Homo sapiens: one gene and its partner. The protein of the gene in region 2 purifies or fractionates together with the protein of the main gene of each other region. This does not show direct contact. Each region holds a gene or a part of one and is shown on either strand. Other genes may lie near its edges. The genes, in order: TUBA3C and GPN2.

Region 1 (7,548 bases), on a different chromosome or scaffold from region 2:
GCCTGGGCCCCACAGGCTTTCAGGTGACACTGTCATCTCATGTGGGGCCACTGAAAGGGGCTGTCTCTTTGCAGCTCTCCTTGGAAACTATCCTGGGCTTCTAATCTGGAGGAAGCAAATGACTGTTCTGTACTTAACCTTCTATGCCTAAGATGCAGGTCAAGACTCTCTTGCACCAGCATAAGAGTACACAGCATTCAGGAGGAAACCAATGCCATTGTGCCCTGCAGGCAGGGCCACCTGAACAGGGCTGAGGCAGCCACGACGGAATCTCTCCACAGCCCATCTTACTGTTGGCAAAGCAGCTTTTCCCTGTAGGCCAGGTTTTCCTAACTTAGGAGCCGAATCTCACAGACACTTTAATCACGAACCTTTCAGTTTCTGTTAACACCATGGGAATATGCTTGTCTATCTCATACCTTCTGCAGGAGGATTCAAAGGAGCCCACATGGGGCCTTACCGACGATGCTCTCCCACCCTCCTAAGAAAGCTGCCATCCAGGACCCGAGCACCTACCGACCACAGTGGGCTCCAGGTCCACAAACACTGCTCTGGGCACGTGCTTGCCAGCTCCAGTCTCACTGAAGAACGTGTTGAAGGAGTCGTCCCCACCACCAATGGTTTTATCACTTGGCATCTGACCATCGGGCTGAATTCCATGTTCCAGGCAGTACAGTTCCCAGCAGGCATTGCCGATCTGGACTCCTGCCTGCCCCACGTGGATAGAGATACACTCACGCTGTGAACCAGAACATAAATGTAGACCCATTCATTTCAAGGCAACTTGAAGCTATATGGTATGCAAAATATTATAATTTAATATTTATATACTGCTTCAGTATCTGGTGCTTTCACAATTGATATTTCCTAGGAGGGTTAGGTGACTGACCCCTTTATCCCTGTGAAAACTTACTTGCTCTACACCATCCCAGCTGCTAAGTTCCAGAGGTAGCCCTAGAACCTAATGTTTGCCACTACACAAAAATTAGATTATTTTAAAACTTGGAAGCCATGTAATGTCAGTAATCAAACCCACATTATAGCCAGTCACAGTAATTCTCTGAAGAATACATAGCAGTTTTTGATTATGTCCTACCAAAGGATAAGGTAATGGGGTTGGGTAAGGAAATAGAGAGTAGGTCCCAGGTCACTGTGGTCCAAGCCCAGGTGTTCAGTATGTGTCCTCTCTCTGCACCCCCAGATCTACCCTCCATCATTCACCACCCGCCCTGTGCTCTCCGAGGCTGACCCATGAGGACAGCATCAGAGGCCTTCCTTGCTCTCTGGCTTCGTGCTGGTTTGTTCAATGACAGGCAGCCGCAGGAGACCAGGAGGCTGGAGGAGAGTGGCGTCAGGGTACTCTCCCCTTGGCCCCTTCCTGCTCACCTTTCATGGGCGATACAAATCCCTCCATCAAGGCCACACTTTTGGCAGGTGGCCCTCTTCATAAAGTTACCCTCTCAATTTTTCGTAAGCACTCCCTCCCCTCTACCCCTTGAAGCCTAGGAGTGTAATGGCTCCCAGATGTCATCAGTGCTGGGACACTGCACTGTCCTTGGTGGTTTCTTTAAGCCCTGACAAGCCGGATGTGGTGGCTCATGCCTGTAATTCCAGCACTTTGGGAGGCTGAGCTGAGATCGCTTGGGACCAGTTTGAGACCAGCCTGGGCAACTATGAAAAAAAATTTTTTTTTTTTAAACAGAGTCTTGCTCTGTCACCCAGGCTGGAATGCAGTGGCACAATCTCAGCTCACTGCAGCCTCTGCCTCCCGGGTTCAAGCAATTCTCCTGCCTCAGTCTCCCACGTAGCTGGGACTACAGGCCACTATGCCCAACTAATTTTTTGTATTTTTAGTAGAGATGGGGTTTCACCGTGTTAGCCAGGATGGTCTCGATCTCCTGACCTTTTGATATGCCCGCCTTGGCCTCCCAAAGTGCTGGGATTACAGGCGTGAGCCACAGCGCCCGGCCGAAAAATTTAAACATTAGCCAGCTGTGGCAGCACACACCTGTAGTCCCAGCTACTCAGGAGGCTGAGGCAGGAGGATTGCTGGAGCCCAGGGGTTCAAGGCTGCAGGGAGCCGTGATCGTGCAACTGTGCTCCAGCCTGGGCAACAGAGCTGTTGTTGAGCCGTTTCAAAAAAAAAAAAAAAAAGATACTTGACAAACCACGGCCACTGCTATTCAGACTTGGGACTTAGAAATCTATTCTTTATGTGAATGCGTTGGTTGCTTTTTTTTTTTTTTGAGGCAGGGTCTCTCTCTGTCGCACAAGCTGGAGTGCAGTGGCACCATCATGACTCACTGCGGCCTCGAAGTCCTGGGCTCAGCTGACCCTCCCACCTCAGCCTCCCGAGTAGCTGGAACCACAGATCCACGCCTCCACCCCGGGAATTTTTCTATTTTTAGTAGAGAAGGGATTTCGCCATATTGGCCAGGCTAGTGAGGAGCCCCTGACCTCAGGGGATTCCCCGCCTCCAACTCCCGTCTGAGCTTTAATTCCTGATCTGACCAATGTCCACAGCCCTTGCCTCCATCAACAAGGCTCCTGGGGCTCCTCAGTGGTTTCCAATAGGACAGAGACATTTGGAGACCGGAAAGCGGGAGCAGCGCCCTTCTGTCTTCAGGAGGCGGCACCACTGTTTGCTCTCTGGGGGACAGGACACGGTCAATGCTCCCCGTCCACTGACTCAAGGCCGGCAGCTTCGTCTAAAACAAAAGCTGCCATCCCTGCCCTGGAGCCCGCAGACCCAGCAGACGATGCCGTGTCCTCGTGTCCCGCCCTGGGCCCCGCATCCTTCTCTGACCTCCTTTCTGCACCCTGGCCCGCAACAGCATCCCTCCATCCAGCCACCTCAGGAGGCCAACTTCGTCCACCCTCCAGCCTGGGCGTCTGCGGGGTGGGAGTGACCTGGCCTTACCATGTTGAGCTCCTCCGCTGCCGCAGCCCAACGCTACTACTTGACCTCAACCGCCGCTGCAGCTGCGCACGCCCAACGACAGCCTCCCGCCGTGCGCTGTCTGGGATTGGCCTGCTGGTGCCAGGCCACCATTGGTCCGGACGTCCTGGGAGGCGGGCCAAGGCTCGGATCCTAGTTTTGATTGGCCGTTGTGCAAACCACGTAGTGGGGACGCCCTCTGATTGGATGCAGGATTGGCGGGAAGGCAGCAGGCTCAGAGAGGGCCCTCTGACTGGATGCAGGACTGGCGGGAAGGCAGTGGGGTCAGAGGGCAGTGCGTGGGCTGAGACGTTTCCGGGGGTCCTCTGACCGGGGATGGAGCAGCTACTGCGTCTTTATAGGTGGAGGAACATTGCTTTGTAAGTAAGCTCCCAGCCTTGCAGTGGCTTGACCACGAACTTGTGCCGCTGCCTCCTCCCCAGTTGCCCCAGACCGGTTCCTCTGGAGGTGCCTTATTCAGATCTTTGCAAACATGGCCGCCTTTGAGAGGCCTTCACGGCATCTACCCAAGTCACAGCAGCACAGCAATCACCCCACCTTCCCACCCAGCACCCGGGAAGTGGCGGGATTCGATCACTTTTGTGATCTGAAAGGAAAAAGTGAGTGGGTTTCTGTGGCTCACGTCTGTAATCCCATCACTTCGGAGGCAGAGGCGGGCAGATCACCTGAAGTCAGGAGTTGGAGACCAACCTGGCCAACATGGTGAAATCCCGTCTCTACTAAAAATACAAAAACTATCCGGGTATGGTGGGCGTGCCTGTAATCCCAGCTACTCGGGAGGCTGAGGCTGGGGAATTGCTTGAACCCGGGAGGCAGAGGTTGCAGTTAGCCGAGATCGCACTGCAGCCTGGGCGAGACTCCGTCTTAAAAAAAAAAAGAAAAGAAAAGAAAAGAAGAAGCAGAGGTAAAATTAATATAGGTGGAGAGGTTGGGCTGGGCGCAGTGCCTCAGGCCTGTAATTCCAGTGCTTTGGGAGGCCTCCGCCGGAGGATTGCTTGAGGTCAGGAGTTTGCAACCAGCCTGGGCAACGTGGTGAGACCCGTCCTGCCCCCGTTTCTACAAAAAATAAAAAATGAATAAAATTAGCCGGACATGGTGATGGGTGCCTGTAATCCCAGCTACTCGGGAGGCTGAGGCACAAGAATCGCTTGAATCCGGGAGGTGGAGGTTGCAGTGAGCCGAGATTGTGCCACTGCACTCCAGCCTGGGTGACAGAGGGAGATTCCGTCTCACAAAAAATAAAAAACTAAAAAAAAATACAGTTTATTTGGGCCAAGTTTGCGAACTGCAACCTTGGAGATGCAAGTTGCCTTAATATACACTCTAATTAGCAGCAGTTACAAATGGGTTTTTAAAGGAAAAGAAGGGGCAGTTTCTAAATTGTTTACCAAGAATTTTACAAATAGAGACAGAGTCTTGCTGTGTTGCCCAGCCTGGTCTTGAACTCCTGGCCGGAAGGGAGCCTCCCACCTTGGCTGGCCTGGCCAGAGGAATGTATATTAAAATAACATAAGCTATTTATTGGCTCTATATTGTCTTTTGTATCACAAATTCTAGTAACAGGAAGATAAAGCTAGTCAGGAACAAAATGCCTTTACACAGCTGCTGGGGCATGGGTATGAGGTGTGTGACTGAAGTCCCATATTCCTGTCTCTCTGGGCCTGATACATTCTGCACACCTCGCATAACTCAAAGTGCTTTGAACACTTTTTCTTTTCTCTCTCCTTTAGTGAGAGGGACTGGGTTTATGGCCACCAGGAAAGGGGAAGGCACAGCCCTGTCCTGGGAAGAGCAGAGTAGGGACACAATGCCCATTTTGGAGGAGTCTGGAACAGTCACCTGATTCTTATTTATTTATTGCTTATTTATTTATTTTTTGGACACTGGTTCTCACCATGTTGACCAGGCTGGACTCAAAACCCCTGGGCTCAAGTGATCCTTATGCCTCAGGCTTCCTTGTAGGCTGGGACTACAGGCGTGTAATTCTTCCCAGTTTGATTCTTCCATTTCTAAAGATCATCTTAACAGTGTATATTCAGTTCTGAGAAAAGGCCTGGAGGAGACGTGCTGGCTTACCCCCAGCTCATCACCAGGATGCAGCACCCTATCATGGCATCTCCCTAGAGGGTGGCCAAGCAGGCTCTTAACTTTCCCTCCTGAGAGGAGAGCAGAGAAGAGAGAGGGAGCTCCCCCAGTGGGATGGGACTCACGAGGTCCAGGAGTTGAGACTTTTCTGTGGGCTTTGGGGACCTCTGAACAGTGCAATCAGGTCTGCCCTTAGAAGGATGTTTTGGCACAAAGAGGAGGAGCAGGGAGGGAGATCTGTGGAGAGCCAGGGAAACCAGAGGAGGCCTCTTGCCTCCTGCCTCTTCTCCCCAGAAGGGTGAATCCTTCCATCTTAGTCGGCTCCGGCTGCCCTAAAAAAATACCATCGACTGAGTAGCTTAAACAACAGAGTTTTATTTTCTCACAGTTCTGGAGGCTAAAAGTCCCAGAGGCCTCTTGTCCTGGCTGGCACACAGCCACCTTCTTACCATGTCCTCCCACAGGGTGGGGGAAGGCAGCACTCAAGCTCCCTGGTCTCTTATAAGGACACGAATCCTACTGGATCAGGGCCCACCCTTATGACCTCACATAATCATCATCATTTCCTTATAGGCCCCATCCCCAAATACAGTCACATTGGGGATCGGAGCTTCAGTGTCTAATAATGGGGGGACACAGTTCAGTCCACAGCCCTCCCCTTCCTCAGGGCTCCAACCACATCATGCACAGAACTCAGCTGTAGCCCATGTCACCCCATGCTCTTCAGTACAGTCATGCGTCCCTCAGAGGCTGGGATACGCTCTCAGAAAGCCATCATCAGGCAATTTCGTTGACGTGAGAACATCATAGAGTGTACTTAGACCAACCTACATGGAGCAGCCTACTGCCCACCTAGGCCACATGGTACAGCATATTGCCCCTCAGCTACAGACCTGTACAGTAAGGATTTGTGTATCTAAACATAGAAAAGCTACATGAAAAATAATGGTATTATAATCTTATGGGGCCACTGTTGTATATGCTGTCTGCTGTTGTCCAAAACATCATTATGTGCCACATGACTGCAATATTTATTTTTCTGATTATAAAAGTAACACATATTCCCAGTAGAGAGTGTGGAAAATTAGGAACAAAATATTTACTCTACTGTAAATAACAAAATAAAAATTGAGTCTTGGACGTGCCCATTTTTACTGTAAGTTATGATTCCATAACTGACTTGTAGTAAACAGTATTTCTGGCCCGTAAGTATTGCTGCTTTGTGTATTTTATTTAGTATACAGTACTAAAAAAAAAGTGTTGTCAATTATTAAATCCTTGCAGTAAGCCAGCTAACAAAGTTTACATATAGTCACTACACAGAAAGGAGCACAAATTATTTCCTCTTTTGCTCAGATTCAAACAGGCTTGAGTGACAACTTGAGGACAAGGACACTTTGCCAAGATTTTACGCAGCGGCTGGCAGGGCCAGAGAGGCAGCATGGTGTGGCAGGAGAATGAGGACCTGCGCAAGGTAGGTGGCTCAGTTCTGGGTGAGAAAGGCTTACGAGACTTTGCAGTTTTGTAAGGTTGAGTTCATACAGATGTTTAAAGACCTTCTTGGGACTCCTACTCATGGACTGTCCCTGCTGCATGCAGGACACCAGGGCCAAGCCTGGATCTAGGGACCAGCCGGGTGCTGCATAGCTCGTGTCAGCTGGCTGAGCTTGGCTCCCAGTCATGGCTGCCTACTAGCACCTTGCCTGCAGCAGGCACCCACTTCGCAGTCATCTGCCATCTCCAGTTCAACCCCACAAAGTAAGCAGCAACTCCCCCACCCCTGCCAATTTTGAATGAGGAACTATGTCTGTGTTATCTGCAGTGATACGCTGGGCCTGACACCAGTGACTCCCCCTTCTCTCTCCACCATGTGATGACAGGGAGCTGCAAAAAAGACCATTTGTTAAAATGTGGGTAATTCCCCCATAACTTCTTCATAAATTTGGTTTTTAGTAAGATGTGTGAAACTTTATGTTCAAATGCCAGTATAGTAGTAATAACACAAGTAGGTTCTGTTTTCTAAAATACATTCATTTATACACTTAAGTCCTTGGACCTATAGTTTGTGGTCTGTCCTCTAAAATGTGCCAGATTGTAAACCCAAATTGCTACTTAAGATCATCTGTGGTGTGATTCCCCTGCATGACTTGTCTGGGACTGCAGTGTGGTCTGGGTGCTGTCTCATTGCTTAATGTAGTCACAATAACTCTGAGCCGGGCAGAGAGGCCTGGGGAGGCCTTTCCTCCCCATGCGGGAGCTGCCCTGCCAGCTTGCTCCACCTCTCCTCACTTCCAGTCACAGTCCAGCAGGTGTGACAGCGACTAAACAACCACATTGTTGACCAGATTGGCTGTGGGGAGGTCAGGGTCATCAGTGCAGCAAGTGGTAAGGTTGGGTTGTCAGTACAGCTGACCTCACGGTAAGTCCAACTGTGGCTCTCCACCCAGGGAGACTTTGATTTAAATCTTTTTCTTCTTAATTTTCTTTTCTTTTCTTTGTTTTCT
Region 2 (12,466 bases):
GCCTGTAATCCCAGCTACACGGGAGGCTGAGGCAGGAGAATCGCTTGAATCCAGGAGGCGGAGGATGCAGTGAGCCGAGATTACACCATTGCACTCCAGCTTGGGCAACAAGAGCGAAACTCTGTCTCAAAAAAAAAAAAAAAAAAAAAAGTTGCAAATAATGATAACAAGTATGTACCAAGAACTGTGCATGGTCGTCCTCACCTCACAGAGCTCATAGTCAGGTCATACCCTCAGGACCTGGCACATACACTGCAAAGACTCTGTAAATGGTTAAACTGAATAAATGCTACATTCTAGCAGGGTAGCCTCCTGGGTAAATCACTTTCCTTTTCTGAGCCAGTTATTTCTTAATGTAAAATAAGGACTAGATGATGCTGAGGTCCCTGATTCAGTTTTATAAATCATTTCTCACTAAAAGAAGTAAGTTGGACTTCCCCCTAGTGGCCTGTTTCTGCCCAGAAAACTTAAGTATCTGGGCTCCCTGGCAGCTCTATCCTAAAGTAAGCTGAGGACTCTACATCACTCCATGTCCAGACTAGAAGCTAACTGGCCTCCCTGGACAAGGTCCCGACACCTCCCTTTCCCAACAACCTCCCTATTGCTCATGTGCTGGTCATTTTATCTGTCTTCTCTAGGTTCCTTTGTTGCTAGAGATGCTATTTAGGGAACAATGTCCCCAGTTCAGGAGAGTACTAATTTTTTTTTTTTTTTGAGACAGAGTCTTGCTCTGTCGCCCAGGCTGGAGTGCACTGGCATGATCTCGGCTCACTGCAAACTCCCTCTCCTGGGTTCACGCCATTCTCCTGCCTCAGCCTCCTGAGTAGCTGGGACTACAGGTGCCCGCCACCATGCCCAGCTAATTTTTTGTATTTTTAGTAGAGACGGAGTTTCACAGTGTTAGCCAGGATGTTCTCAAGCTCCTGACCTCGTGATCCACCTGCCTCGGCCTCCCAAAGTGCTGGGATTACAGGCGTGAGCCACTGCGCCTGGCCTAATTTTTTTTTTTTGAGACGGAGTTTCACTCTTATTGCCCAGGCTGGAGTGCAATGGCGAGATCTCGGCTCACTACAACCTCCGCCTTCCAGGTTCAAGCGATTCTCCTGCCTCAGCCTCCCGAGTAGCTGGGATTACAGGCATGCACCACCATGCCTGGCTACTTTTTTGTATTTTTAGTAGAGATGTGGTTTCTCCATGTTGGTCAAGCTGGTCTCGAACTCCTGACCTCAGGTGATCTGCCCACCTCGGCCTCCCAAAGTGCTGGGATTACAGGCGTGAGCCACCACGCCCAGCCGAGAGTACTAATTTATCAAGAAAAAAAAGCTGGCCACTGGGACTCTAGCCAACTCCCCTGCCTCATACCAGCCTGCTTCTACCTCAATCTTCCCTATTTTGTCCCTGGCCTCCCACCCCTTCTCTGTCTCTGTGCCAGGTGAGAATATAGCCTCCTTCTGTGAGGACAGAAGGAGGCTGTCTAGGAGCCAGGAAGCAGACTCTCACCAGACACCAGATCGGCTTGTGTCTTGATCTTGGACTTACCAGCCTCCAGAACTGTGAGAAATAAATATTTATTGGCTAAGCCATCTGGTCTATGGTATTTTTGTGATGGCAGCACAAACTGACTAAGACAAGGCCTTTATTCCTACTAGTGCCTCTGCATAGAACAGTCCTCCCTTGGCTGGCTCCTTCTCACCATTCATGTCTCAGCTCAGATGCCACTGCTTCAGAGCAGAAGTGAGAAACTGAGGTCCAGAGAGATGAACTGACTTACCCAGACCACACGATGATTCAGTGGCAGATCCAGAATTTAAACTCATGCCTGTTTTACTCCAAAGCTCACTCACTTCACTCCCAAATATTCACTGTCGTATCACTTTAATTCCTTTGTAACACCTAACACCATCTGTAGCTCTCTTGTCTCCAAAATCTACAACGGTAACTAGCACAGAGTGGCACAAAATAAATGGGCAGGAGTTAGAACCTGCCTGTGGCTACTATCACCAGACCACGCAAGGCACCAGAGGCAGCTACCTTCAGCTGAGATGTCTGCTTCATTCTAGCCCAGCTGCTGCCCTGCTCTTCGCCTGGAACAGAAGCTCTTACCCAGCTTCCCATAATGCTCAATGAGGTCCATCTTGGAAAGGAGGTTGATGTGGGGCAGTTCCACGTGCAGCATGGTGGCCAGGGAGGTACACAGTACTGAAATGAACTTGGCAGGGTCTGTGCAGTAGTGAGAATCCACGAGGTGGACGGCAGTCAGCTGGGAGGGAATAGACAGGGTGAGAGTGGCCTGGAGAAACAGGGATCAGCATTCCCTCATGAGAATGAGGGCTTGAGGACAGAGGGGAAGCTTTCCCCATTAGTCTCCTGCCTCTGTTTCTTTCTAATAACCACCCTGGTTTCCTTCTCCCAGGAAATAGGAGTCATTTTTTTTTTCTTACAAGAGGTCTTGCACTGAGCCTCCCAGTGGGCAAGGGGTTTAAATCCCATGGCATCTGACTCCACTCTTTCATTTACTTTTGCCCACCAATTTACAACAATCTCCATGCCACTTTCGACATTAACCCCTTCCATACTTCCAAAATCGCCAAGTTGGCTACTAACACATTTTACACGTGAGGAAACTGAGGTTCAGAGTGATGAACTGACTTATCAACACCACACAGCCAGTCAGTAGCAGAGCCAGATTCTGAACTCATGCCTGTTTTACTCCAAAGCGACCCAGCCCCTACCTCCCTGTGTGACATGGGGGCGTGGCGTCTGTCCTCCCTGTCTCAGTTACTCCATCCGCAAAATGGGCCTCCCCGCCCTGAGACGCACCCTGAGGTCCCACTGCGCCATTTGGGAGAAGATGCTGCGCAAGGCGCCGTGATGCGTGCAGAGCTCCACCTGGCCTGGGCAGTCGAAGAGGAAGTAGTGGCCGCGGAGGGGGTCGAGCTTGGCACGCAGCCAGTCCAGGTTGGCTTCCAGGTACTCCATGCAGTAGAGCAGGCCGCCGTTGGGCCCCAGGCGCAGCGCGTCCATCACGTCGCCCAGCCCCACCAGCTCGCCCACGTCCACGGCACACTCGTACGGCAGCCCCTCGTTGGCCGGGTCCAGGTTCACCACCGCCACGCGCCGGCCCAGCGCGCGCAGGAACTCACTCATGCCCAGGCAGTACGTGGTCTTCCCTGAGCCCGGCGGGCCGATCACCGCCTGCCCGAAGGCCGTGGTCGGAGCGGCCCCTGCCATTGGCGGCCCGCGGCCCGGAGCAGGTCAACTCACAGGGAAAACGGGGCAGGTAGCCGCGCCGGAGACGAGACTGAGGGCGAGGGTCCCAGTACGTATACCTCGTTGGCGGCCAGCGTCACTCGCCTCAGGCGGAACAGCTGAGACCGTGTCGCGCAAAAGGAGATAACAGGCCGATACTAACTAGACTAACTCGACTTCCGGACAGCGTCGGAAACGGCGAGCCAACGAGAGGAAGTCCCGCCCTCACGGCGGGGACGAAGCTAGACGCCGAGGGGCGGGCGGCGCAGCCGCATTTCTCTCGCGGGTAGTGGGTCGAATGTGGGGTCTTTGCGGGAAAATCGCTCTCGGAATTTCTCTAACCTTCAGACTCGAATTAGAAAAGTAAGGGAGCTCCAGTAGTAAACGTCTTTATTCTTCCGTGACGTCGCACACCCAAGCCACCTCCCGCGGACTCTCCGCTGGCAGTCCCACCCAGTGAGGGTAGAGGCGGTGGAGGGCCCACCCAAGGCCGGCTCTTCCAAGCACCACAAATCCTCTCCTCGCCCAGGTCCCTTTCCCCCTTTCTGGCCTTCGTGGGGACACCTTCAGAGTCCCCAAGGAAGGCTGTGCTGATAGCCTCACTCAACCCAGCTTTTCAAAGTTCTGCAGGAGGCAAAGGGCAAGCCCAGAGATTAGGGTTAGAGACCAAAGACAAGCGGTCGTTACCCCTAATATCCAAGGGGAGGGGACGGGAGGGGGCTTTTTGTAAAAATGCCCCTGAGGTATAGAACCGGCAGGCAGGCAGGCTCGGAACAAAACACCCTGAACCAGCCACGAAGACTGCTGCTCCCAGACTCCTTTCTGCTTCAGTGGTAGATGAGGCCAGGGCAGAGGGTTTTCATCATGTAGCTATGAAAGGAAGCCCCCAACCCGGTCAGTCAGGCAATGAGGGGCTGTCTGAAGCACAACTGGAACCCCTCACAAAGGCCATGTCTGTCCGAAACTTCATGCTGGTGGGTGGCTGGCGGCGGAGCAGTGACTCCGTCTGGTCTTGGGGTAGAGGCTCATCATAGATGGTGGAGATGAGCCCCAAGCCATTTCTACGGGGCCTCTTCAGTTGCCCAAATGGCTGTAGCTTCTCTCCATGGTACCTGGATAAAAACGGGCTCTCAGTGAGAAGGCTGCTCTCAAACTCCAGTTAAAGGGGTTGGGAGAGGACGGGGAAGTAGTTACTACATATCTGGTTTGTCCAAAGACAGAGGCTTTAAATCTGGGTCTTTGTTCTCCAGCCCTCTTATCTATCCATTGACAGTGCCAGCAAGAAGGGGCCTCATATAAAATTTTCATTCTGTCACTACAGACTTCCTAATAGTAACCATCAAGTCCAAACTCCTCCAACAAAGGGTATGAATGATCTTGTTAAGCCTTAGGGCTTACTCTTTAAAAAAAAAAAAAAAGTCAGATTTACTTTATTTATTTATTTATTTCTGAGATGGGGTCTCACTATGTCACCCAGGCTGGATTGTAATGGCGTGATCTCGGCTCACTGCAACCTCCACCTCCTGGGTTCAAGCGATTCTCCTGCCTCAGCCTCCAGAGTAGCTGGGACTACAGGCGCATGCCACCATGCCCAGCTAATTTTTTTTTTTTGTGACAGAGTCTTGCTCTGTCACCCAGGCTAGAGTGCAGTGGCGCCATCTTGGCTCACTGCAACCTCTGCCTCCTGGGTTCAAGCGATTTTCCTGCCTCAGCCTCCTGAGTAGCTGGGATTACAGGCACCCACTACCGTGCCCAGCTAATTTTTTGTATTTTTAGTAGACACAGGGTTTCACCATCTTGATCAGGCTGGTCTGAAACTCCTGACCTCGTGATCCACCCGCCTCAGCCTCCCAAAGTGCTAGGATTACAGGCATGAGCCACTGCGCCCGGCTAATTTTTGTATTTTTAGTAGAGACGGGGATTTCACCATGTTGGCCAGGCTGGTCTCTAACTCCTGACCTCAAATGATCTGCCCACCTGGGCCTCCCAAAGTGTTGGGATTACAGGCGTGAGCTACCACGCCCGGACTTTTTATTTTTCTAACAGAGACAGTCTCATATGTTGCCCGGCTGGTTTCAAACTGGGCTCAAGGAATCCTACCACTTCAGCCTCCCAAAGCGCTAGGATTACAGGCTTGAGCCACCGTGCCTGGCCCAGATCCACTTTTTCCTCTTAACTGTTTTGAATTTCATCCCGCACGAGTACCCAGCAGCCATGCCAAAACCAGTGGGAAGAGGGAAACCAGGGCATAGCTGAAAGGCTTGGGCCCCCAGGGAAGTCCCTCAGTCACACTTACCCCAATCCACGCTTGCATCTGGGGTGTTGGCCATCACTATCCAGGGCCTCAGGCACCCCTGAGCACCTGCAGCCCAGGCCCTGGCCCTCAGCCCAGCCCTGCCGCTCCATCACCTTCCGCCCAATGCCCTGCAGAGTGAAGGGACAAGACTCAAGAAATGGGGCTCCTGCTGGGAGCAGGGAGAATGGGGATGGGAGAAGGAATTAAAGTAGAGAAGGAAAAGAGAGGGGTCCATGGGGTGGGCACAGTGCTAACTCACCTTGGTGTGGCGCTCAAAGGTGCCCACCTGGCGTTCGATCACAGAGCCATCTTCCTGTCCATCTCGGAGTCTCTGTTCCAGACGCATTTGGACAGAGTCTCGGGCATCCTTGTCTCCACCATCTGAGGAAACAGAGCTCAGTTTATGGAAGCGTCCCTCTCAAAGAAGGGGGAAGAATCAGGTTTCTAGGACCCCCTCGTAAGATTGACTTATTCATTTTAATAGTGTTCTGTATCTCTCTCATTAGACTGGGAGCTCCCCAAAAGTAGGAACCATGGCTCTCCCCAATCATACAGATGAGAAGATTGTGGTGCAGAAAAGTAACAGAGCCAACAAATGACAGAGAGAGGATTAGAACCCAGGTCTTCCCTCCCCTACTTGGCTATTTCCCCCACCCGGGTCATTTCCTCTTCTAAAATCTAAACCCTTACTAGAGCCTGAGCTTCTGACCAGCCCACCCTACCAGGGCCTGACCATCAGACCTAGAGCCCCTAAGGGCTATCTATCCCTCCTCCTCCTCCAAGAAAGGATGAAGGCTCTGTCCAAAACTAGCACTTAATGTACACAACCAAAGATGTTTTAAGAGGAACCCTCTCAGTGGGCTACCCCAAGGGAACGGGAACGGTACCCTGTCTCAGCCTTTGCTAGCTCTGGTAAAGTGTCACTGCAAGGCCAGGGCACCTGTTTCACCTCCAGTATTGCCACTCCTTGCCCAGTACCTCTGTCATAGTACACACTCATGTCCACATCCCAGTCATCGGCTGTCTGTTCATCAAAATCTGTAGGGACAGAAAAGCATCCAACAGAGTACATTAAGGACTCTCAGTTCTATTAAGAGTTAAACCTAGAGTTTTTTTGGCTTTTTTTTTTTTTTTTTTTTTGAGACAGAATCTCATTCTGGAGTGCAGTGGCATGACCTTGGCTCACTCCAACCTCTGCCTCCCGGGTTCAAGTGATTCTCCTGCCTCAGCCTCCCAAGTAGCTGGGACTACAGGTGCATGCCACCATACCCAGCTAATTTTTGTATTTTTCATAGAGACGAGGTTTCACCATGTTGGCCAGGACGGTCTCGATCTCTTGACCTCGTGATCTGCCCACCTCAGCCTCCCAAAGTGCTGGGATTACAGGCGTGAGCCACTGCACCCAGCGGGGCATTTGTTTGTTTTAGAGAAGGTCTCACTCTGTCCCCCAGGCTGGAGTAAAGTGGTGGAATCATAGCTCACTGCAACCTTGAACTCCTGGGCTCAAGTGATCCTCCTGCCTCAGTCTCTTAAGTAGTTCGGACTACAGGCATGAGCCATTGCACCCAGCTTGTTTGTATTTTAAGATCCTTCCTCTGGGAGGGTTATTCAGAATTTGTTGGGGGCGGGGCGGGGGGCATTTTCTCTCCATCTCACTGATCCCCACTCTTAAAAAGGATGATTGGTCTCTCGTATACAATAGAGGTCAGCCTGTTCCCTAGCCTTTTGTTTGGGCTCACCACTACAGAATCTACCGTGTGGAACAGGGAACCCCAAAAGAATGCAGCAGGGGTCACCCCTGCCTTTGCCTGGGTACCAGCATTACCTCCTTCTTCCTCCTGCCAGAACTGGGCATCAGTATAAAACACCAGGCCAGAGCCACCCTTCTCCCACTTGAGCTCAATCTCCTCCTCAAAGAGCTGCTCAGTGGTCCGCTCCTGCCCGGTCACGTCCTCATGCAGCGCTTCATGCCGTTCCCATTCCTCACCCCGGTCATCGTCCTAAAAGGCAGGGAGAGGTGATTTGCCTGAGCTTCCTGACCTCATGCCCCGAGGGAGGGAAGCTCAGGGCACAGGAGGCATGTGTGGCTAGCCTCAGCGCCATTCCTTCAGATTTCTCCAAGAAGCAGCACATATTTGGCCCCTGACCAACACGTCTCCAGCCCGATAATTCTCAACAGTTTGCTCCTGTCCCCACAAGCCTGACTCACCTCTGCGCGTTTGGCCATGTTGTTCCCTGCCTGAAATACCCACTTTCCTCTCCCACACCCTTCTCTTCTCCACTTGATTAAATCCTCCTCATCCCTCAAGTCATACAGCCTACATGAAGCCCCCCACATTTAGGCCCACAGCTCTCATACCAGTCTCTGAACTCCCAATGCTAATCAGTACACACTGGTTAGGCCTTTTTATGTCATATCACAAAGAAAGAATGGACAATAATGCTTATTGTCTCTGGTGTGTCAGGCCCTTCCCATAGCTTAGCTCCTTTAACCACTGCAACAACCCTATGAGATAAGTACCATTATTCCCATTCTACAGATGACAAAACCTAGGTTCAGGGGAGTAAAAAGTTCTTTGTCCAAAAGAGTACACTGAGGGAGCAGCAGAGCCAGCAATGCAAACCCGGGTGGCCACATCCAGGTGCAGCATCTCCAGATGCTGGTTCTTTCTCTTCAGGGAGATTTTAGGCTCTTTGAGGGCAGGAAATGGGTCTTAGAATGCCTTTGGAATCCTACACTAGCCCTTGGCTTGACGGGACTTGTGGAATGATACAATGACTCCTAGCTTGAAACCCTGTAGGCCTTCAAGTGCTGAAGAAAAGTCAGGATGGGGCCAGACGCAGTGGCTCACGCCTGTAATCCCAGCACTTTGGGAGGCCAAGGTGGGAGGATCCCTTGAGCTCAGAGGTTCAAGACCAGTCTAGGCAACAAGTCAAAACCCTATCTCTACAAAAAATACAAAAATTAGCCAAGTGTGGTGATGTGTGAGTGTAGTCCTAGCTACTAGGGAAGCTGAGGTGAGGATGGCTTGAGCCCAGGGAGTTGGAGGTTGCAGTGAGCTGAGATTGCACTACTGCATTCCAGCCAGGACAATAGAACCAGAGCCTGCTTAAAAAAAAAAAAAAAAAAAAAGGAAAGGAAGGAAGGAAGGGGAGAGAAGAGGAGAGGGGAAGTCAGGATGGTACCACACTAGGGATGTGGTCCAGATGTCTTAGCAATCTTGGCTGGGAGCTTTTTTTTTTTTGAGACAGAGTCTCACTCTATCGCCCAGGCTGGAGTGCAGTGGTGCGATCTCAGCTCACTGCAACCTCCACCTCCTGGCTTCAAGTGATTCTCCTGCCTCAGCCTCCCAGTAGCTAGGACTACAGGCACCACGCCTGGCTAATTTTTGTATTTTTAGTAAAGGTGGGGTTTCACCATGTTGGCCAGGCTGGTCTCGAACTCCTGACCTCAAATGATCCACCCATCTTGGCCTCCCAAAGTGCTGGGATTACAGGTGTGAGCCACTGCACCCAGCTGGCTGGAAGCTTTGAAACATGGGTGAATTACTTTTTACCCGGAGTACACATTTTTAAAAAAGTTTTCCCAACAAATCACACCTTACTTGATTTTATGGATGTGCAACCAAGTTTGGAGAAAGGAACCAAAGAAATGTCTATGTCACTAATGAAGTGAGAGTGGAGGCTACTGTTCAATCTGCTGACTCTAGGTCAGAAAATAGAGATGACTGTTCAGCCACATTATGACAGCACGCACAGGTTAGAGAAGAAGCAAGAACTGGGTTCATATCCCAGCTCTACCTCTATTTCCTGAGATGATCTTAGACAAGTCACTGCACATGTTTTGGTCAGCACATTTTCATCTATGAAAATGAACTCTCCTTATCTGGTCTTTCATGTGGAATTTTTTTTTTTTTTCTCAGCTCACTGCAACCTCCGCCTCCTGGGTTCAAGAGCTTCTGTGCCCGGCTGGAAATAATTTTTAAAAAAGAAAAAATGGGCCTGGCGCAGTGGGTCATGCCTGTAATCCCAGCACTTTGGCAGGCCGAGGCAGGTGGGTCACGAGGTCAGGAAATTGAGACTATCCTGGTTAACACGGTGAAACCCTGTCTCTACTAAAAATAAAAAAAAAAAAAAAAATTAGCCGGGCGTGGTGGCACATGCCTGAAGTCCCAGCTTACTCGGGAGGCTGAGGCAGGAGAATCACTTAAACCCAGGAGGTGGAGGTTGCAGTGAGCCGAGATCGCACCACTTCACTCCAGCCTGGGTGACACAGTGAGACTCTGTCTCAAAAAAAAAAAGAAAAAAATGAATAAAGAGGAACCATCCTGGCCAGGCGCAGTGGCTCACGCCTATAATCCCAGCACTTTGGGAGACTGAGGCAGGCGGGTCACGAGGTCAGGAGATTGAGACCATCCTGGCTAACACAGTGAAACCCCGTCTCTACTAAAAATACAAAAAATTAGCCGGGTATGGTGGTGGCCGCCTGTAGTCCCAGCTACTTGGGAGGCTGAGGCAGGAGAATGGCGTGAACCCAGGAGGCAGAGCTTGCAGTGAGCCGAGATCGTGCCACTGCACTCCAGCCTGGACAACAGAGCAAGACTCCGTCTCAAAAAAAAAAAAAAAGGAACCATCCTTATATATCCCTTCCAAGGGAATGAAAAATAAGACCCACTTACGAATCTTCTGGTAAAAGCTCTGGACCATCTCCCTACAGAAATACAGAAACACACATGCAAATATAGTTTTACATTCCTTCTTGGACTCCTTGGAACCCTCCTGAGGACCCCAGGTTAAGAACCCTTGTAATAGACAATTGAAGAGTGGTATTATTAATGCCTTCGGCCTCTTTCAGCTGCCAGCAAGGACAGGGTAGCACACTGTACTCACCTCATCTGAGTGAGACTCTTCTTCCTCTTCCTTCCCCACTTCTTCCTCAGGCTCTCCACAGGGGCTGGCTGGTATATCTGCCAGGTAGGTTCCTTGGGGTATTTCTTCACCCTCTGCTGTATACACAAGCTCTTCCTGCTCCACAGTCTCTGAGTCCTCATACTCAAAAGGCACATTGCCGTAGCGCCGGGAGGAACCTGTCTTGGGGAACTGGAGCTGCAGCTGGGTGATGATCCGAGGGGGTAGGCGGCAGGCCCGGATCAACTCCAAAAAGACCCGCAGGGGAGTCCCCACATTCCCTCTGGGCATCAGCACTGGTGGGTTCAGCTCCGGCAGTTGCTTCAGGTCAGCCAGGGTGAAGGCTTCATTCTCTGCCTTCCAACTCTGCAGTTCCTTCCGGGTCTTGAAGGGAAAGGAGCCCAGACCTTGGAAAGGAGGGAGAATAGATCTTGAAACCCAGAAGCCTCCAGCAACACTTGAGCCAGAAATTGGCCAATGTTTAAATCTGTTAGCCTTTCCCTAGTAAACATCTAGTAAATCCCTAGTAAAAATCTAGGCCGACACAGTGGCTCACGCTTGTGATCCCAGCACTTTGGGAGGCTGAGGCAGGAGGATTGCTTGAGCTCAGGAGTTCAAGACCAGCCTGGGCAAAATGGTGAGACCCTTATCTCTACAAAATATAAAAAAATTAGCTGGGAGTGGTGGTGCACCCTGTGATCCCAGCTCCTTGGGAGGCTGAAGCAGGAGGATTGCTTGAGCCTGGGAGGTGAGGCTGTAGTGAGCCAAGATTGCACCACTGCACTTCATCTCGGGCGACAGAGTACCCTGTCTCAAAAATAAATAAATAAATAATAAAATAAATCCATTAGCCTCATGCTGTTCCTCCCTCTCAAACTTCTCCAGGTCTTTTCATCTCTCCCCAAGCGGAACTACAGAACTACCTAGTAGTTTCATGTCACTTCTCATCACCTTGGCTGGGCATACAAGTTTCTTCCAGCTCTGGCTCCTGATGAACTTTTTTTTTCTTTTTTTTGAGACAGATTCTCACTCTGTCACCCAGACTGGCGTATGCAGTGGTGCAATCTCAGCTCACCGCAACCTCCGCCTCCCGGGTTCAAGTGATTCTCATACTTCAGCTTCCCAAGTAGCTGGGATTACAGGCATGTGCCACCATGCCTGGCTGATTTTTGTATTTCTAGTACAGACAGGGTTACGCCATGTTGTCCAGGCTGGTCCTGGCCTCAAGTGATATCTACCCACCTGATGACCTTTTGATTCTCGGCTGTCACCAACTCCCACCTCCTGCATGTCTTCATACGATGTGTTCCAGCCACACCAAACAATTTTTCTCCTAATTTCTTTTTTTTCTTCTTTTTTTTTTTTTGAGATGGGGTCTCGTTCTGTCACCCAGGCTGGAGTACAGTGGCGCGATCTTGACTCATTGCAACCTCCACCTCCTGGGCTCAAGTGATCCCCCCACCTCAACCTCACAAGTAGCTGGGACTACAGGCATGCGCCACCACAACCGGCTAATTTGTATTTTTGGTAGAGACAGGGTTTCACCATGTTGCCCAGGCTGGTATGGAACTCCTGAGCTCAAGAGATCCACCCACCTGTGCCTCCCAAAGTGCTGGGATTACAGGCACGAGCCATTGCAACCCAGCCCACAATGAACAATTTAACATGCCCTGAAAGTTTTTCACGGGCTTTCAAAGCTGTGTCTTTGCAAACGCCATTTACCCTGAAACCCAGAAACACCATTCTCTCCTATTAACTCCTATTTATTTTTCAAGACCCAGATGGAAAGCCACATTTCATGATCCATCTAGGAAGTTAGTTTCTCCCTTCTCTGTCATCTCACAGCACTTGGTGATAAACAGTATAGGCTCTGGAACAGATGCCTAGGTTTGTTGTAGCTCTGACACTAACTAACTCTGTAACCTCAGGCAAGTCACATAACTTCGGCTTCCCTCAGTTTCTTCACCTATGAAATGGGAGAAACAACAGCTCCTATCTCATAGGACTGTTGAG

What was found.
Region 1: the proteins of GPN2 (region 2) and TUBA3C purify together in Homo sapiens (affinity purification with mass spectrometry, with the first as the bait; 3 studies listed by BioGRID). This does not show direct contact.

Annotation. Positions count from the first base shown.
Region 1 is NC_000013.11:19,178,825-19,186,372, forward strand, and holds the start of TUBA3C (tubulin alpha-3C chain), read right to left. Parts: upstream 3,001-7,548; 5' UTR 2,924-3,000; coding exon 2,921-2,923; intron 740-2,920; coding exon 517-739; intron 1-516. UniProt on the Homo sapiens protein: Tubulin is the major constituent of microtubules, a cylinder consisting of laterally associated linear protofilaments composed of alpha- and beta-tubulin heterodimers.
Region 2 is NC_000001.11:26,886,866-26,899,331, forward strand, and holds the start of GPN2 (GPN-loop GTPase 2), read right to left. Parts: upstream 3,419-12,466; 5' UTR 3,232-3,418; coding exon 2,821-3,231; intron 2,261-2,820; coding exon 2,104-2,260; intron 1-2,103. Other genes in the region: GPATCH3 (G patch domain-containing protein 3), read right to left, coding at 4,145-4,361, 5,546-5,673, 5,805-5,926, 6,524-6,583, 7,371-7,545, 10,436-10,860. UniProt on the Homo sapiens protein: Small GTPase required for proper localization of RNA polymerase II and III (RNAPII and RNAPIII). May act at an RNAP assembly step prior to nuclear import.